Homo sapiens: one gene and its partner. The protein of the gene in region 2 interacts with the protein of the main gene of each other region in a biochemical or structural test. Each region holds a gene or a part of one and is shown on either strand. Other genes may lie near its edges. The genes, in order: SERPINB5 and COL1A2.

Region 1 (5,165 bases), on a different chromosome or scaffold from region 2:
ATCCACATGGGCCTCAGTGATTTGCTGACTTTCCAGGGGACCATCCAGTCTCCAGCTTGCTCCTTTGGTTGCCATTATGTTTTAGCCACCACTTTATTAACTGAATTATAATTCCTGTCCTTCTTCTTCTTTGGTGCATTACTCTCTCTGTTTTTTTTCTTTCCATTTTATGCTTTGATCTTTCAGCCATTATCCAGCTGTCTTGGATTTTACCTTTCGTTCTTAAAACGCCCTCCAATAAACATCAATTATTTTCTTCTTCTTCTTCTTTTTTTATTTCAATAATTTATTTTTCTTTTTTTTAATTATACATTAAGTTTTAGGGTACATGTGCACAATGTGCAGGTTTGTTACATGTATATACATGTGCCATGTTGGTGTGCTGCACCCATTAAGTTGTCATTTATATTAGGTATATCTCCCAATGCTATCCCTCCCCCCTCCCCCCACCCCACAACAGGCCCTGGTGTGTGGTGTTCCCCTTCCTGTTTCCAGGTGTTCTCATGGTTCAATTCCCACCTATGAGTGAGAACATGCAGTGTTTGGTTTGTTGTCCTTGTGATAGTTTGCTGATAATGATGGTTTCCAGCTTCATCCGTGTCCCTACAAAGGACACGAACTCATCATTTTTTATGGCTGCATAGTATTCCATGGTGTATATGGGCCACGTTTTCTTAATCCAGTCTATCATTATTGGACATTTGGGTTGGTTCCAAGTCTTTGCTATTGTGAATAGTGTTCCAATAAGCATACGTGTGCATGTGTCTTTATAGCAGCATGATTTATAATCCTTTGAGTATACACCCACTAATGGGATGGCTGGGTTAAATGGTATTTCTAGTTCTAGATCCTTGAGGAACTGCCACACTGACTTCCACAGTGGTTGAACTTGTTTACGGTCCCACCAACAGTGTAAAAGTGTTCCTATTTCTCCATATCCTTTCCAGCACCTCTTGTTTCCTGACTTTTTAATGATCGCCATTCTAACTGGTGTGAGATGGTATCTCATTGTGGTTTTGATTTGCATTTCTCTGATGGCCAGTGATGATGAGCATTTTTTCATGTGTCTGTTGGCTGCATAAATGTCTTCTTTTGAGAAGTGTCTGTTCACATCCTTTGCCCACTTGTTGATGGGGTTGTTTGATTTTTTCTTGTAAATTTGTTTGAGTTCTTTGTAGATTCTGGATATTAGCCCTTTGTCAGATGAGTAGATTGCAAAAATTTTCTCCCATTCTGTAGGTTGCCTGTTCACTCTGATGGTAGTTTCTTTTGCTGTGCAGAAGCTCTTTAGTTTAATTAGATCCCATTTGTCAATTTTGGCTTTCAATTATTTTCTTCTTAAAGTATAGAACTAAAGAAAATGACCTTTTGAGTTTTGGAAATGATTTTTTTTTTTTTTTTGAGATGGAGTCTTGCTCTGTCCCCCAGGCTGGAGTGCAGTGGCATGATCTCAGCTCACTGCAAGCTCCGCCTCCTGGGTTCATGCCATTCTCCTTCCTCAGCCTCCCGAGTAGCTGGGACTACAGGTGCCTGCCACGACGCTTGGCTAATTTTTTGTATTTTTAGTAGAGACGGGCTTTCACTGTGTTAGCCAGGATGGTCTCGATCTCCTGACCTCGTGATCCACCCACCTCGGCTTCCCAAAGTGCTGGGATTGCAGGCGTGAGCCACTGCGCCCAGCCGCATCTCTCTCATTTTTTAAAACAGCTAAAATGGATGCATTCACTACCTATGACCCTAGGGCATGGCTCAGAGTTAGTTCAAATTCCCATTAAAAAAAAAAAGTAACTTTAGCTTTAATTTAATTTTCTAAATCTGATGCCATTCCTAGTACATGAATATTCTGGATTTCCTCGTAGAGAAATTACAATAAGCATTCAAGAAATATGTGTAAAAAGCTTTCTAATTTTATATTCATTTCACTATTGTGTATGCAACATCATGATCCAGGCATTTGTTTCTATAAATCTACTCTCTAACTTAAGGTTGGGTGCGGTGGCTCACACCTTTAATCCCAGCACTTTGGGAGGCTGAGGCTGGCACATCACTTGAAGCCAGGAGTTTGAGACCAGCTTGGCCAACATGATGAAACCCTGTCTCTACTACAAATACAAAAGAAAATTTAGCTGGGCATGGTGGAGTGTGCCTGTAATCCCAGCTACTCGAGAGGCTGAGGCACGAGAATTGCTTGAACCCAGGAGGCAGAGGTTGCAATGAGCGACGATCACACTATTACACTCCAGCCCGGGTGACAGAACAAGATTGTCTAAAAAAAACCCAAACAAACAAACAAACAAACAAAAAACTACTCTCTAACTTAAAATGAAAAAACAGAACCCTGTCCTCATAAATTTCAGTGCACATGGAACACTGTTATAGGCTGGGGAGGAGGAGGACACAGCTGGGTGGCTGCTGGGTCTCCTGAGTCACATACCAAAAACTTCTGGGCCATCTTTGATGTTCCACCCAGACTGCTTTGAAGCTGGGCTTATCATAACACCTTATGTTTTCAATTGAGCCAGGTCTTTTACAGTTGGAAATAAATAAAAATAATTTCTTTTCATTTTTGTCCTTCAGATTGAAAAACAACTCAACTCAGAGTCACTGTCACAGTGGACTAATCCCAGCACCATGGCCAATGCCAAGGTCAAACTCTCCATTCCAAAATTTAAGGTGGAAAAGATGATTGATCCCAAGGCTTGTCTGGAAAATCTAGGGCTGAAACATATCTTCAGTGAAGACACATCTGATTTCTCTGGAATGTCAGAGACCAAGGGAGTGGCCCTATCAAATGTTATCCACAAAGTGTGCTTAGAAATAACTGAAGATGGTGGGGATTCCATAGAGGTGCCAGGAGCACGGATCCTGCAGCACAAGGATGAATTGAATGCTGACCATCCCTTTATTTACATCATCAGGCACAACAAAACTCGAAACATTATTTTCTTTGGCAAATTCTGTTCTCCTTAAGTGGCATAGCCCATGTTAAGTCCTCCCTGACTTTTCTGTGGATGCCGATTTCTGTAAACTCTGCATCCAGAGATTCATTTTCTAGATACAATAAATTGCTAATGTTGCTGGATCAGGAAGCCGCCAGTACTTGTCATATGTAGCCTTCACACAGATAGACCTTTTTTTTTTTTCCAATTCTATCTTTTGTTTCCTTTTTTCCCATAAGACAATGACATACGCTTTTAATGAAAAGGAATCACGTTAGAGGAAAAATATTTATTCATTATTTGTCAAATTGTCCGGGGTAGTTGGCAGAAATACAGTCTTCCACAAAGAAAATTCCTATAAGGAAGATTTGGAAGCTCTTCTTCCCAGCACTATGCTTTCCTTCTTTGGGATAGAGAATGTTCCAGACATTCTCGCTTCCCTGAAAGACTGAAGAAAGTGTAGTGCATGGGACCCACGAAACTGCCCTGGCTCCAGTGAAACTTGGGCACATGCTCAGGCTACTATAGGTCCAGAAGTCCTTATGTTAAGCCCTGGCAGGCAGGTGTTTATTAAAATTCTGAATTTTGGGGATTTTCAAAAGATAATATTTTACATACACTGTATGTTATAGAACTTCATGGATCAGATCTGGGGCAGCACCCTATAAATCAACACCTTAATATGCTGCAACAAAATGTAGAATATTCAGACAAAATGGATACATAAAGACTAAGTAGCCCATAAGGGGTCAAAATTTGCTGCCAAATGCGTATGCCACCAACTTACAAAAACACTTCGTTCGCAGAGCTTTTCAGATTGTGGAATGTTGGATAAGGAATTATAGACCTCTAGTAGCTGAAATGCAAGACCCCAAGAGGAAGTTCAGATCTTAATATAAATTCACTTTCATTTTTGATAGCTGTCCCATCTGGTCATTTGGTTGGCACTAGACTGGTGGCAGGGGCTTCTAGCTGACTTGCACAGGGATTCTCACAATAGCCGATATCAGAATTTGTGTTGAAGGAACTTGTCTCTTCATCTAATATGATAGCGGGAAAAGGAGAGGAAACTACTGCCTTTAGAAAATATAAGTAAAGTGATTAAAGTGCTCACGTTACCTTGACACATAGTTTTTCAGTCTATGGGTTTAGTTACTTTAGATGGCAAGCATGTAACTTATATTAATAGTAATTTGTAAAGTTGGTTGGATAAGCTATCCGTGTTGCAGGTTCATGGATTACTTCTCTATAAAAAATATGTATTTACCAAAAATTTTGTGACATTCCTTCTCCCATCTCTTCCTTGACCTGCATTGTAAATAGGTTCTTCTTGTTCTGAGATTCAATATTGAATTTTTCCTATGCTATTGACAATAAAATATTATTGAACTACATGTCTTGTTTTTTTTTTCCTATTAAGTTAGACTATTTTGAAATAGAACCAAGCCGTGCGTTTACAAAAGCATCCCTGAAGCAGGCAGATCACAAGGTCAAGAGATTGAGACCATCCTGGCCAACATAGTGAAACCCCGTCTCTACTAAAAATACAAAAATTAGCTGGGCGTGGTGGCGCCCACCTGTAGACCCAGCTACTCAGGAGGCTGAGGCAGGAGAATCGCTTGAACCTGGGAGGCGGAGGTTGCAGTGAGCCAAGATCAGGCCACTGCACTCTAGCCTGGCGACAGAGCAAAACTCCGTCTCAAAAAAAAAAAACAAAACAAAAACTCAAAACATAAAAACAACAAAAACAAAACAAAACAAAAAGAACAAACCCCAAAAAACCCCAAAGCATCCCTGTAGGTAAAATGCTCTTTTGAAGATTGAGGCAGACTAAAAAGAAATAAGAATAATTACTTCCTCTTTTCCCTTGTTTTCCTTTCTTCCTAGCCCTCAGCTCTGACTTCTTTCTCCCACACTCCTTTCATCCTAGGGAGTAAAAGACCAGGGCAGTGCTAGAATGACTCTCAACTGCATAAACATCTATAATGGAATCAGACACCTTGGGACATAGAGATCTTCCCAGCCCTTTTCACTCTAAACCCACCCTCAAAAGTCATTATATTAGGACACTGTATGTGCTTAAAACATTGTTTCTTCTTATGAAGAGTGTTTTTCTCAATGCCATGCACATTTGTTTTAAATTAGTTATGGTGTCCCTGAACCTAATATTCAACATAGCCTCTTTTCTGTCCCTATTGTGTGCTTGAACTAAACGTGTCTCCTCTT
Region 2 (7,020 bases):
AAGTATTTACTCTTAAGCACTTTCAAAATGCTATTTAAATACTCTTGCCTCAACAAGATTTTCTAGATTCAAATTAAGTATTCTGCCAAAAGCTGAATATGCCTGACAGAACTCTTAATGTATGGGAAATATTATTTTAATGAAATATTAACTAACCTACTTGTATTAAGGGAAAGATTAAATATATATCTGGATCCATATTTTTATGTGATAACTTTCTCCCCTTTTGTAAAAACCAAGATTCCCCCATTTTGTCTGATAGTTTACCAAGAAGAAGTTGACTCTACAATGTTTTCATGTTTAGGGTCACCCTGGAAAACCCGGACGACCTGGTGAGAGAGGAGTTGTTGGACCACAGGTGAGACTTTTTACATTGGTAGATAGCACAAACATCATAGGCCTATAAGATAGTTGCTAAAACTAGCATCAATCTAAATGACAACATAGATGTCACCCAAACTCATAACATGAATCGAAGGCATCTAATAAAGAAAAAAGCCTAGTTAAAAAAAAATGCATATACATTTTATTCATGCAAATAATGGAATATAAATGACAGCAAGCATACCATAAGCAACTAAATTGTGTTTTCTACAAATACCGTATTATTAGTTACTCACATTAGAGCAAGTTAATTTGTCACTCTGTGCTTAGAGGTATACTAGACTTTGGTTCAAAGCTTGAACTTTGATGAGAATAAATACTTTGGAGGGAAGAAGTCACTGTCTTTTTATTTATGGTAAAACATTATTCACCATCTTCTGTATTTCTTTCTAAGGGTGCTCGTGGTTTCCCTGGAACTCCTGGACTTCCTGGCTTCAAAGGCATTAGGGTGAGCACATTCTTTACTCAGAAGAGAGAAAATGCCTATTAATTTTTGGAAAAAACTCAAGTATGTTTAAAATCTTGGGTGACATATACTCACTTTCAAATCCCTGGAGTTTGCCAAAGGGAAGAAAGAGTTAAAGAGTCAGATTTCTTGAAAGTAAAGTGGGGTGCAATTTTTTCAGTCTGTTCATAGCTACCAAAAAACAGGCTCACTACAGAGAAAATTATATAGAACATGTATTACTTATTGAGTATTTACAACCGTCTGAAAATCATAAAATTATTAAGGATGGAAAAGATGTGAGAGAACACCTAGTCCTCCATCCTTCTCTCTCAATGGCAAGAAAGTTAAGTGACCTATCTAGGGCAATAGACTGAGTTTGCTGGGACCTGGAACACTGGACTTCTTTCTACTGCAGCAGACAAGACTTACCCAAGAGAGATTAATGGCAAAGATATACAATACAATTTTTATTTGACCAAACACTATCATGGAACAGCATTTTATAATAAGGCTTTCCTTTCAGGGACACAATGGTCTGGATGGATTGAAGGGACAGCCCGGTGCTCCTGGTGTGAAGGTAAATATTAAATTAGAAGCACTGTTTTTAAGCACTTGATTGAAATTCCCCATGACCTCCAAAAAAGTATATTATACTGAAGACTACCCATATTACAAAAAGTATTTTTATTTTTTTTCTTTCCTGTACTTCAAATCCCTCAAGGATGGGGACTATGAGAGTCTGTGAAAAAAGGTCAATTATTAATATTTATTAAAATTCAATATCTATTAAACAATTGAGATAAAAATAATATTAATAGTTTCTTGTTCCATTTCCTTTCCTCCCTCTATAATTCCAGTGTATCTCTGCAGCCAAAATAAAAGTAAATAAACATATAATCAGAGATTACGACACTCTGTATTATTTTAAACTGTAAATTCTCCTTTGCCACACACTAATTAGATAGGTACATTCATGTCGCTATACACTTTTCAACCTCTTTCCTGTGATTTATCTGTGCACACTCAAAAAAATTTTAATTAGGTAATTAAAGTCTCAGAAGTGTGTTATCTCTTGGCTAGGCTCTTCTCTGACAGCGTTTTCAACTATAAAATGTTCTCTTTCCTATTAAGGAGATAATGTGATATTAAAGTGAATACCAACGTAATTACAAATTAATGAGTAACGAATACTAGCGGGACCAGAAATGAACATGAATATGGAGAATCTATTCTAACTTTCCAGCTGCCACACAAATGGATAAGGTCAAACTCATTCTCCCAAGAGCCCGATATAACAGCTCAGACTACTAATCACTGTATCATAAAATGTTAGAGCTGCAAGGAGCTTTGGAGACCCCCTCATTTTGCAGAGGTGGGAAACTGAGGCTTCGTGAGAGCAATTGACTTGCCCAAAGTCACACATCTAGAGGTTAGAAAGTCATAGGCTAGAAATGATCCCCCCTTGCCACTTCAATGCTTATTCCCAAAGAATAGACTTCACATAGAATCCTGGAAATTAAGGGTCCTTATGAGGTCTCTTAAACCATATTTCCCCTATATCTAAATCAGATTATCTTTAAAAAAAGTTCTTTTACATGTGCCATAGTATTAAATCCCACTACTACTACTACTACTACCCTGGTTTTTACTCAGGATAAGAATATAGATTGGAAATAAATATGATGGCTCTAAAAAATACCATGAAGCTTCAATTTTTCATGCACATTTTATGAAAGTGATAACACTGAGTGTTCAAAATAACTTTAAAAAGGATAAATATGGTTACATTGAAAGCAAATTTATCCTTTGCCATCTCTTTTTATGATATTGTTTCTAGTATATAATTGATATCCTGAATCTAAGGGAGAAATTGGGGAGGAGGTACACTCAAATAACCACATCTCCTTAGAACCTGGATATGTGGTACTATCTGAATAAAAACTCATGTTAGCACATTTTAAAATCTGTGTGTCTGGCATAATTGAAAAACAATCTATATGTGTAAGAAATATTATGAAGTATATGAATGGTTCAAAGTAAAAAAAATAGAGTAAAATTGCACTATCAGGAAAAATAATTGTTATATTTAATGAACAAAAACTCAATCCTTCTCCATGTAGGGTGAACCTGGTGCCCCTGGTGAAAATGGAACTCCAGGTCAAACAGTAAGTATTGACTACTTCATTGTAAATTTAAATGTGTACACTCTTTATGAGATGGAACTTCTTTAATGTTTTTGCTAATCACTGTATCCTTCAGCATTGTATTCTTTGATGTTTTTCTAATAGCCTTCTGATACTTAATTGAAATCCACTACTGTTTAGTTGGAATTAGAAGGCAACTTATTTATTTTTAGTGTATTCTTGTACAGGTTGGAAACTGAACAAAGCAAATGATGCCTGTGACTTTTTTTAAATTAGCATTCTGGATTTTATTGAAAATATTTCTGCTTCTAGGGAGCCCGTGGGCTTCCTGGTGAGAGAGGACGTGTTGGTGCCCCTGGCCCAGCTGTAAGTGCTTCCATTTTTGTTCAGTTTCATCCTTTTAAAAAATCTTCTAATGGCTGTCATTTAAGTTTCCACCTGATCTTCCCTTTATTTTCTTCTTAGGGTGCCCGTGGCAGTGATGGAAGTGTGGGTCCCGTGGGTCCTGCTGTAAGTTTTGACACTGGGGAGTTTGAAAGGAGTTGAGAATGTGGGGTGGGTGCTGTCTTCTTCATTAATCTCTTACGAAATAGCATCATTTCAGACACTTTACCAAATGTTCTGTGAGGTCTTTTGAAGGCTCCATTTATAAGTAGTGTAAGCCATTTATAAGTACCTGAACTTTTGATTGATGTATAAAGCAAAATATCCCCACCCTGGATACCATGAATGTCTTGCCTTTGATGAGATCCTAACGACAACAGACTGGTTGTCAGTTTTTTTCTTTACTAATATAAACAGTGTCATGCCACTGTAAGCAACTTCAATCTTCTGCCATTGTTATTGTTTTCTTAATTTACTTGGAGGAAATTTCTTACCACCTTCTGCTTTGATTTCAGGGTCCCATTGGGTCTGCTGGCCCTCCAGGCTTCCCAGGTGCCCCTGGCCCCAAGGTAAAAACACTGGTGACCATTGTCACTACTTTGATAAACTTTTTACTGTGATGTGAAAGATTGGAACTGTGTTTGCAGATAAAGAGATAATTACGAAACAGTTACCTTAATTATTCCTTCCCTTCAAAATGGACATAGAATGACCAGTTTTCTCACTCTACATTTGAAATAGATCATTTCTCTGCACTGTGCACTGTGCCCATCGATATAGATGACAACATGGAAATTGTCTCTAGGACTAGTTAGTTAGGACTGACTGAGAACCAGAGTCAACCACAGAGAGACAGAAGGAGAGGGAAGGTAGTAACAGTAGCCAAGATGGCAGAATCAAGCAAGGAAAATAGGAAACCAAACTCAAATCTTGTAATAAAACGGATAAGAAAAATAATTGCAATTTTGAAGTTTTATGAAGACATTTCATAAAACTTGGCATCTTAAAAACAGATATGCTGTTTCATTATTTGCTGGTTAATTCCTTGGTTTAATTTCCTCTTTTAGGGTGAAATTGGAGCTGTTGGTAACGCTGGTCCTGCTGGTCCCGCCGGTCCCCGTGGTGAAGTGGGTCTTCCAGGCCTCTCCGGCCCCGTTGGACCTCCTGTAAGTAGCCACTGTCTTTAAACTTTATTGAGTAAAAGAAAACAAAGGTGGAGTATGGGGAAGAAGAAGAATGAAGATGGGGTCAAAGAAGAACCGAAATATTCCAATTAACTGATATCCTTCTCCTTTCCTTTTCCTCATAGGGTAATCCTGGAGCAAACGGCCTTACTGGTGCCAAGGGTGCTGCTGTGAGTATACCTGCGTAGCTAAAATGTGCTGCTATGATTTTAAAGGCATTTAATGTGTGCTGCCTCTACAGCCCATCACCTCCCTAATGGACCACACTGCATTTTCCTTCACAGGGCCTTCCCGGCGTTGCTGGGGCTCCCGGCCTCCCTGGACCCCGCGGTATTCCTGGCCCTGTTGGTGCTGCCGGTGCTACTGGTGCCAGAGGACTTGTTGTAAGTGGTCATGACTGTGGTTCTCATCATCCTGAAATACCACCTCTGCCATCATTTCATCACTATCTAGACTTCCACTTGTAGTTTTATTATTCCTATTTTTCTCTTCCTTAGCATTTTTAGTTTATATTTCTTATATATATATGTACACTCCCGTCTGCTATATGCACACAGACATGCCCTTCCTGTTATCTTAAATCATTACCTCAAGGTAAATGAGGCAAAGTTCTACAATATCAGTTTTGTCCCTTCGACCAATAATACCATTCCCCTGTACTCAATTTAAATATGAACAGGGTACATTTCCTAGAGAACTTGAGCTTCTCTTTACCTTGACCCACAAATATTCTAAGAGATTTGTCTGCAAGAGAGTTTCAACAAATGTTTGTCCTTTGACCACTGTTCTGTATTGAACCCTAGGGTGAGCCTGGTCCAGCTGGCTCCAAAGGAGAGAGCGGTAACAAGGGTGAGCCCGTAAGTAGCTCTATCATCACACTTTTATAAAGTTAATTGTTTTTCTCATTCCAGTTTCTCCAGCTGGACATAGTATTAAAATTATTTTTTTACTCCCTCTTCTTTTGTTCTTTTCATTAAACAGGGCTCTGCTGGGCCCCAAGGTCCTCCTGGTCCCAGTGGTGAAGAAGGAAAGAGAGGCCCTAATGGGGAAGCTGGATCTGCCGGCCCTCCAGGACCTCCTGGGCTGAGAGTAGGTTTCAAATGCTCCCAACACCCTAACACACCAGAGGCAGATTATGATACCCCTTCACTGGGAATTGGTCAAAATTACTGACTGTGTTTTCTTAGGCAAAAAAAGCATCTGCTTTCCATCTGCCTTATTAAATCAGTGACTCTCAATTTAATATGTTATAAAATTGGCCTGGAAACAATGTTGACCTACTTTTGCAGGATGCTCATCTATGAATTCCTCTAGGGGTTGGGTGAAGTGTTTTGGCTTGGTTTGTGTCTGTATCTCCCCTGTAAGGAGATCATGCTATTTTTTACAAACTCTACCTTATCAAAGCCAAGAGATTTCTTTAATTCTCTCTATTTCATGTACTTTCTTGCAGGGTAGTCCTGGTTCTCGTGGTCTTCCTGGAGCTGATGGCAGAGCTGGCGTCATGGTAAGCTGTCTATCACTTACTTCCTAGAAAGGGGCTTGCTGCTTCTGGTGGTGGGTGTGTCATTAGCTTTAGCATCCTCCTCCTCTATCTGTTTTTTTTTTTTTTTTGAATAGGGCCCTCCTGGTAGTCGTGGTGCAAGTGGCCCTGCTGGAGTCCGAGGACCTAATGGAGATGCTGGTCGCCCTGGGGAGCCTGGTCTCATGGGACCCAGAGTAAGTTTCAAACTGATTCTGAGCAAATCACACCTGGCATTACTTCCTTCTTTAAAGGGTTGGTTAATATTGAAGATAACAATAAAAACATCAAAAGTAAATTTGTTAGTAGTCTTGCTGACAGTTGCATTTTTGACTTTATCAAAGCTCAGTAGATATTTTCATGCATTTAATTAGTTCATAAATTTTCTATTTATTACTTGATACAATGGCTATGAGGTTTTTGGAAGAATAGATCTATTTTAATATATCCAAATTAGATTGGTCCTCCTATCAGCATGAATCTTTTATCTTAATTTGTGAGTTTTATATAAGGTGTTCATGAAATATATTAGGACTATACATTTTTGGTTTATTAGATTCATAAGTGAAGTCTTTTTCCTAGCAATCACAAAGTGCTGTAATGTATTCAGCATCACACTAGCTATGGAGAAATAACCTCTAGGTCCATAGACACACTAATCCATAGCAATAGAGTAATTTTTTTGCCTCCATTGCCTCTTATGGGTGAATATCAACTGTAATTGTACCATAAACAAGTAATAGGGACACCAAATATAGCAATAAGAAATCCACTTTGGAAATTGTTTACTAAAAGTATTAGTTTTTCTATTATGAGGTAAATAACGTGATACATTTTGCCCATATACATGTTGCTTAACAGTTTCTTGAGATATCTATAAAAGGATGAGTTGCACTAAATTTCAATAAAAGGAAAGCCACAAAAAAATAGAAGAAAAATTTCAGAACTCTTTTCACA

What was found.
Region 1: the proteins of COL1A2 (region 2) and SERPINB5 form a complex in vitro, tested with the Homo sapiens proteins (one study listed by BioGRID).

Annotation. Positions count from the first base shown.
Region 1 is NC_000018.10:63,500,753-63,505,917, forward strand, and holds the end of SERPINB5 (serpin B5), read left to right. Parts: intron 1-2,577; coding exon 2,578-2,970; 3' UTR 2,971-4,333; downstream 4,334-5,165. UniProt on the Homo sapiens protein: Tumor suppressor. It blocks the growth, invasion, and metastatic properties of mammary tumors.
Region 2 is NC_000007.14:94,404,895-94,411,914, forward strand, and holds part of COL1A2 (collagen alpha-2(I) chain precursor), read left to right. Parts: intron 1-304; coding exon 305-358; intron 359-778; coding exon 779-832; intron 833-1,355; coding exon 1,356-1,409; intron 1,410-2,952; coding exon 2,953-2,997; intron 2,998-3,288; coding exon 3,289-3,342; intron 3,343-3,441; coding exon 3,442-3,486; intron 3,487-3,875; coding exon 3,876-3,929; intron 3,930-4,427; coding exon 4,428-4,526; intron 4,527-4,669; coding exon 4,670-4,714; intron 4,715-4,828; coding exon 4,829-4,927; intron 4,928-5,347; coding exon 5,348-5,401; intron 5,402-5,525; coding exon 5,526-5,633; intron 5,634-5,994; coding exon 5,995-6,048; intron 6,049-6,161; coding exon 6,162-6,260; intron 6,261-7,020. UniProt on the Homo sapiens protein: Type I collagen is a member of group I collagen (fibrillar forming collagen).